Homo sapiens: one gene and its partner. The protein of the gene in region 1 purifies or fractionates together with the protein of each later gene. This does not show direct contact. Each region holds a gene or a part of one and is shown on either strand. Other genes may lie near its edges. The genes, in order: PTGES3L-AARSD1 and SEPTIN2.

Region 1 (3,818 bases):
TATATATTATATTATATATTATATAATATATATTTTATATATTATATTATATATTATATAATATATATTTTATATATTATATTATATATTATATAATATATATTTTATATATTATATTATATATTATATAATATATATTTTATATATTATATTATATATTATATAATATATATTTTATATATTATATTATATATTATATAATATATATTTTATATATATGTAAAGACCTTGTCTTTAGGACAAACTATTTTTTTGTAAAGATTTGCTTGTTGCCCAGGCTGCTCTCAAACTCCTGGCCTTAAGCCTCCTTCCTCGGCCTCCCAAAGTGCTGGGATTACAGGCCTGAGCCACCATCCCTGGCCCCATACTGCATTATAAATACTATAATACCTATAATTTATTTTATACTATGTAGTTCTAAGGTATAATTATATAACATACAAAACAATATATAACATGGAACATAAACATATAGTATATATTACTTACATGCAGTATGTTAAAACTTAATTAGCAGATGTGTTGTGTGTGTCTGTGTGTGTACACAACTGGAATCATACCATCCGCATCTTGCATTGTGCCCTTTTTCATTTAATATATATTGGAGATCTTTACAAGTCAGAACATATAGATCTAACTCATTTTTTTCATGGCTATATGGTATTCCATTGAATGTATTTTTCATAATTTCACAGGTTCTTTATTGAGGGACACGTAGGTCGTTAGTCTTTTACCATATTCTTTTTTTTTGAGACGAAGTCTCGCTCTTGTCCCCCAGGCTGGAATGCGACGGCGTGGTCTCAGCTCACTGCAACCTCCGCATCCCGGGTTCAAGCGATTCTCTTGCCTCGGCTCCCCTAGTAGCTGGGATTACAGGCGCCTGCCACCAGGCCCAGCTAATTTTTGTATTTTTAGTAGAGACGGGGTTTTACCACGTTGGCCAGGCTGGTCTAGAACTCCTGACCTCAGGTGATCCACCTGCCTCGGCCTCCCAAAGTGCCGGGATTACAGGCATGAGCCACCGCGTCCGGCAGTCTTTTACCATTTGCAAACAATATTGCAATCAACATTTAAAAATGTGGATCTTTACATATTTTTGCCAGGATATCTGTAGGGTACATTTCTAGAAGTAGAATTGCTAGGTCAAGGAGTAGATAAAATACATTTAAACATTTTGATAGCTGTTACCAAGTTGCTCTTTGATGAAATTGTACCAATTCTCACTCCTACGAACAATGAGAGTGTTCCATTCTCTAAATCGTTTCAGATATTTGACAAGATAAAAATTAGCACCTGGTTTAATTTGCTTTTTTTTTTTTTTTTTTTTTTTTTTTTTTTGAGACGAAGTCTCGCTTTGTCAGCCAGGCTGGAGTGCAGTATCGCGATCTCAGTTCACGGCAACCTCCGCCTGCCAGGTTCAAGCGATTCTCCTGCTTCAGCCTCCTTAGAAGCTGGGATGTAATCCCAGCCTGTAGGTGCCCGCCACCACACCGAGCTAATTTTTGTATTTTTAGTAGACACAGGGTTTTGCCATGTTGGCCAGGCTGGTATCGAACTTCTGGCCTCAGCTGATCCAGGCACCTCGGCCTCCCAAACTGCTGGGATTACAGATGTGAGCCACTGTGTCTGGCCCAAACTATTTTAATGTAATGTAATGTAATTTTCTTGAGACGTAGTCTCGCTGGGTTACCCAGGCTGGAGTGCAGTGGTACGATTTCGGCTCACTGCAACCTCCTCCTCTCGGGTTAAAGTGATTCTCCTGCCTCAGCCTCCCGTGTAGCTGGGATTATATAGGCGTGTGCCACCACGCCTGGCTAATGTTTTTGTGTTTTTAGTAGAAACAGGGTTTCACCATGTTGGCCACGCTGGCCAAATTGTTCTTCTTTTTTTTTTTTTTTTTTTTTTTTGAGACGGAGTCTCGCTCTGTCGCCCAGGCTGGAGTGCAATGGTGCGATCTCGGCTCACTGCAAGCTCCGCCTCCCAGGTTCACGCCATTCTCCTGCCTCAGCCTCCGGAGTAGCTGGGACTACAGGCGTCCGCCACCACGCCCGGCTAATTTTTTGTATTTTTAGTAGAGACGGGATTTCACCGCGTTAGTCAGGATGGTCTCGATATCCTGACCTCGTGATCCGCCCGCCTCGGCCTCCCAAAGTGCTGGGATTACAGGCGTGAGTCACCGCGCTCGGCCTTTTTTTTTTTTTTTTTTTTTTTTTTTAATTGAGACGGAGTCTCGCTCTGTCGCCCAGGCTGGAGTGCAGTGGTGCAATCTCTGCTCACTGCAACCCCGCCTCCCGGGTTCCAGCGATTCTCCTGCCTCAGCCTCCCGGGTAGCTGGGATTACAGGCGCCCGCCACCACGCCCGGCTAATTTTTGTATTTTTAGTAGAGACGGAGTTTCGCTATGTTGGCCAGGCTGGTCTCGAACTCCTGGCCTGAGGTGATCCACCCGCCTCGACCTCCCAAAATGCTGGGATTACAGGCGTGAGCCACCTCCCCCAGCTCCTTGCTTTCTATTTCTACTGGGCAGTGCTGCTCAGTAACCATGCCAGTCCCGTCCCCGCCTCTATGCGCTGGGATTCCGCAGCCAGAATACTTACATCCCTGGGGCCCCAAGGGGCTCACTAAACCACGTGCCTTGTCCAGGTCGCGTTTTTTTGTTTTTGTTTGTTTGTTTTTTTCCTCCTGGTCTTGTCCTTTGTAAAGCCTTAGAACAGTCGTTAAACAACCCAGCAAATATGCAATTCGCGTTTTCAGTAAATTTATCCAAACCGCATTCCATTCCTTACCCTCCTGCTTCTGCGCAGACAAGCGCCCTTGATGACGTTTGTCCCACGTCGCTCTCCGTTCGCTCCCAGGCTTCTCTGCGCGTGCGCCTCCTCACACGCCTGCAGGTATGGCGTTCTGGTGTCAGCGTGACAGTTATGCCCGAGAGGTACGGCGTCACGGCGAGGCACTTGAGACTGCCGGGCCGGCAAGGCGGTTTGGGGAAGAGGGCGCCACGTGTAGGGAGTGCCAACATGGCATTCTGTCCTGGTGTGGAGAGGGCTAGGGCTAGGGCTGGGGTCGGGGCTTATTCTCTCATTCCTCTCTGTTCAGTTCACCACCACCGTGGTCTCCTGCTGTCCCGCGGAGCTGCAGACTGAAGGGAGCAACGGCAAGAAAGAAGTGCTGAGCGGTTTCCAAGTGGTGCTGGAAGACACAGTGCTTTTCCCTGAGGGCGGGGGACAGGTACCAAAACGATCTCTTCCCAGGAAGCCCCCAGTTTCTTTGTGCTCAGGCCGAAATGCTCTCCTGCCCCTTTTTTCTCAGCCATAATGAATTCAGATGAGCTTTAGTTTAATTCATTTTGTTATTCATTTAATGAGTATTTATCAGCAATTGCTTATCTAGACATAACATATGCTAGATATTATTCCAGGCTGTAAGGATAACCGGTGAACAACACAGTGCCTTTATATACGTGGAATGTTTATTGAAGACAACTGTGTGTGCTAGGTATAATAAGTAATAAACAAAAACCAAGTAAAGGGAAAGAGAGTGATGGGATGCTTGTCTAGATGAAGGGTAAGTTATTTCAGTAGAGACCTAAACGAAGTGAGGGGGTGAGTCTTTGCAATTATCTAGTGGTGCTGGGGGGCAGAGGGAGTATTCAGGCAGGTAGAATAGCAGGTGCAAAGGCCCCAAGGAAGGAATTAGCTTCGGGTTTTAGGGACTGAAAAAGATGTTCCTGAAGGAGTTCAGGTGAGATAGACGGGTTACAGTAGTACAGCAGAGAGCATATTTATCAGTGCTGTGATGAGGACTAGGTACAACATGAGC
Region 2 (3,818 bases), on another chromosome or scaffold:
GATGCAGGGCGGGGATGGCGATGGCGGGGCTCTCGGGCACCACGTGTAAGGTGATGTGCACATATCAAGAAGTCAGAGGTAGGCCCTGTTGTCCCTTAGCCTGGAAGACAGGCAGTTACTAACATTGTGTCAGCTTAAATATGACAGGTTCCTCCTTAAGCCTCATTAATATTTTGCATTTTGAAGTAACTCCATCACTAATCTTAAACAAGGAGAGATTGCTCCTGAAAAACAGAAGCCACTACTTTGCCACCTACTTTCTAGTAAAGATTTTTCATATTTTTGTCTCTTCTTTTTTTTTTAAATAATTTCAACTTTTATTTTATTGGGGTACATTTGCAGGTTATTTTCTAAGCTTGCAAATACCAACATTAGAAGGAAATTATGTATTAAAGCACTTTTATTAGTTGTATTATTGGAAATTTGTTAATTGTTAAAACATCTCTTTAAAGGGAATAAAAACGTGTTATTAAAACAGCTTGTACAGATTAAAAGTAGAGATGGCACAAGGAAGAAGAATTATGTGAGGTAGATAAGGGTTCCCTGGATGGTGACTGCTGACCTCCTGTTCCTCAGATAGCTTTGTCCCGACTGATGGTCATTAGTGAATAGATCTGTCTGGCATGGTGTATGCTGGTCTGCCTGCTTGAAAAGAATCTGCAGACTCCAGAGACTCAGGACCAGGAAAAGGCAGATGCCCACTCCCCTGTATCTTATGTATCTTATGGACAGGCAGGCTCTCTGAACTGTCCAGGTGGCCACTCCCATCACTTGCCAGAGGAAAAGCATGAAAGGTAAAGTTAAGTAATGACCTAAGAGTCCAAAGAAGAGGGTAGGTCACATGGAGCTGGGGTAAAGGCAAACAAACCTCATACAAGAGATCTGATTAGAGCTTGAAAGAGAGTTTGAGTTGGCCAAGATCTGAGGATGAAACGCTGGGAATTTGGTAGAAGGTCTCTACTACAATTCAGGGACCTCATTCTGGAAGCATGAGTGTGTTCATGAAAACAGGGAGGGGACTTGAGCCTTCAACGACATACGGCAGGGTGGGTTAGGCAGAAGGCAGGGAGTCTTGAGGCCTCCACAGCATGTGGACAGGTGGCTGAGGAAGGACCCAGAGTGACTTGCTGGAGCCTTAGTCACCAAACGCTCTTGCAGCTTAGTGGGAAAGGTGTTCATTGTAAAATACGGTATTTACACAAAATGCACAAAAATACGTATGTACAGTTTAATAAGTTACTGTAAGGAAAACATCCATGTCACCCCCAACTGAGTCCAAGTTGGTTGCTTTAGTTTCATCATCACAGTGACACCTTAGAATAGTCCTGAGGGTATGTGCTTAGTTCACACTTTACTGATGAGGAAATTGTTGCCGCTCCGAGAGTTTAAAAGTATTTGCTGATGGTGCCATGACTTTTAAACGATGGCCTGCTGACTCTAGAGGCTGGTCCTGCATAACCAGTTAATGGCATGTGACTGGGGAAGTGAGGGTACAGTGGAAAGAGACAAGGATGCCTCAGCGATGCAGCTCATTTGAAGCAGGAAGCAGTGACAGGTGTTTGCTTATTTTCTCTGAGCTTCATTTTCAACCTTTATGGAATGAAAATTTTACTTTTAGATCGATAAAATTTTATTTCTGTATACTTTCTAGTTTTGCAGCATTTCCAGTTTCCAGGAGCCTCATGAATGGCTTTTTGGTTTAGTTAACTTTGTGGTCATGTAAGCCCTGCCTTTTGCTCAGTTTATGACCTTTGTTAAGGAGAAAAGTAGAACTGTTAATAATTAACGCAGCAGACATTGCCTCACTCCCACTTAAGTGTGTTTTGTTTTCTTTTTTCTAGAAAACACTTTCCTGGATAAAAAAGAAAACATTCCAGATGCATGATCCAGCTGTGTGTTTTCAATCCTTGGGAGGGTGCCATCCACATTTTAACAGTACCTGTGCCTGAGAATTTAATTTTTAAAAGACTTTGATGTGTTTTTGTATGAAGTACTTTTAACGTATGTATTTCATTGCTGTGTCACACTCTGTGTTTTGTGAGGTGAATGTCTTCCTTTTCTTTCTCCCTAACCACTAATGTTAGAATTGATTTCCAAGAATCGGCATGTATACTTAATACTGAATTTCTTTGATTTAACTGACTTAACAACTGACTAACCATTGATGAGCACTCCTGATTTTTATCTAGAACATTCAGATTTACCATAATGTTCCTTAGTGGTAGAGGTGTGTGCCTAGTGATGTAGAAAGATACACTGACTTGGTGCAAGGCCATCTGCTTACCACATCACACCACTTGGAGATCTTTGCTTCCTTGCTTTTATGTTTGTACACAACACCTAAAACCAGTTTTGCTGCTATAATTCTATACTGTTGATTCGTCTGCGATTTTATCTGTTAACCAAATAAAACATAATAGAATTTCCTAATGAGATATATCTTTATACTTAAACAGCTTTTTTAGAGGTGAGTTTTAAAGAAGTCTCTTAATTCTGATGCTAGGTTGTTTTTAAAACCACTATGCAAAGAACTCACCACAAGCCACCTTTTGTAGTGTTCTCCACTAATACTGGTTATCCTGTGCTACAGAGAAAATCAAAGCAGTCATAAGCTCCAGTTTTCGTATTGCAAATAAGACTCTTACCTACAAAATGAGATTCAGTGAACTAATTTGGTTTTTACTCAACCAAATTAAAAATTTTTTTAAGGAAAATTAGCAGTTGGTCTATTCAGAATCAAACCTTTTTATATTTTATACTGCACTTTAGTGTATTTTCTGTCACTGTAGGTATAGAAGATCTGCCTCCCCTGTGGAAATTGGGGTCTGTTGGTGGGCGTGCCCCTGAAGCCTGGCTTGGGTTGAAAAGTGTTCCCGCCCTAAGGCCTTGGTGCCCTGAACCTCTGATGCCTACCGGGTTCTCCTGATTTGAGTTTCCTTTAAATACTCCCTTTTTGAGTAATTTTCTGATGGGAGGAAAGTAGCAGTCATCATCTTTTTGTGTGCAGGCTGTCTCATTTATTTTTAGCCATTGTCGTTTCATTCATTTTGTGTAATATAAACCGTGTGTCATGTCAAAGTGAAAGACATTTCAAATCTGTAGCATAGGCTAGTGGGCAGGTCCGCACAGTCGAAGCCACACCTGGTCTGTTTTCTGTGCACTGTAGCCTTAGTGTCACCTTTCTTCTTGTGTCTCCTTATGGTACACTCCAGCGGTTGCCTTTTTTATCATTTCTACTGAAGTTGGGAAATTCAACCCCAGAAATTGACAGATGAAAGGAGACAATGGTTGTGTAGGGAGATGGAGAAAATGCTTAATCTGAGGATGAGACAGGGTTTTTTCATTTTTGTGGGGGCTAGAAAAAACATAAAATGAGGCAGTTAAATAATAATAGTTAATGAAGGTGTGCTACAGAAAATAATCTGGTGTTCTTGCTAACTTTGCCCTTCACTGTTGCTTAATTGTGAACAGCCAAAAGCTATATGTTATGGCTTATTGTGTGAAGGTAACTAAGAAGTGGTGTTCCATGACTTCAGAGTACATCCATGCGGAGTCCATTATTTGAGTTTGACATTTAATAACTTTGCTGGAAAATCTGTAAAAAAGAAAAACAAGTTTGCTAGTGACTAAGCCCCGCATATGTGAGTGAAAGTACTTCAGGCACGCTGCCTCCTGGTAACAGCTATGCAGGGAGGGAGGACCCACACTGCTACACTTCTGATCCCCTTTGGTTTTACTACCCAAATCTAAATAGATACTTTTGATAATAGATAACTGCTCTTTTACTAAGACATAGTCTCTACCTATAGAAATGTATT

What was found.
Region 2: the proteins of PTGES3L-AARSD1 (region 1) and SEPTIN2 fractionate together in Homo sapiens (co-fractionation; one large-scale study listed by BioGRID). This does not show direct contact.

What each region holds. Positions count from the first base shown.
Region 1 is NC_000017.11:42,963,515-42,967,332, reverse strand, and holds part of PTGES3L-AARSD1 (PTGES3L-AARSD1 protein), read left to right. Parts: intron 1-2,878; exon of another isoform or gene 2,879-2,892; coding exon of another isoform or gene 2,893-2,931; intron 2,932-3,095; coding exon 3,096-3,227; intron 3,228-3,818. Other genes in the region: alanyl-tRNA editing protein Aarsd1, read left to right, coding at 2,893-2,931, 3,096-3,227. UniProt on the Homo sapiens protein: Functions in trans to edit the amino acid moiety from incorrectly charged tRNA(Ala).
Region 2 is NC_000002.12:241,350,126-241,353,943, forward strand, and holds part of SEPTIN2 (septin-2), read left to right. Parts: coding exon 1-49; 3' UTR 50-78; intron 79-1,817; exon of another isoform or gene 1,818-1,841; 3' UTR 1,842-3,818.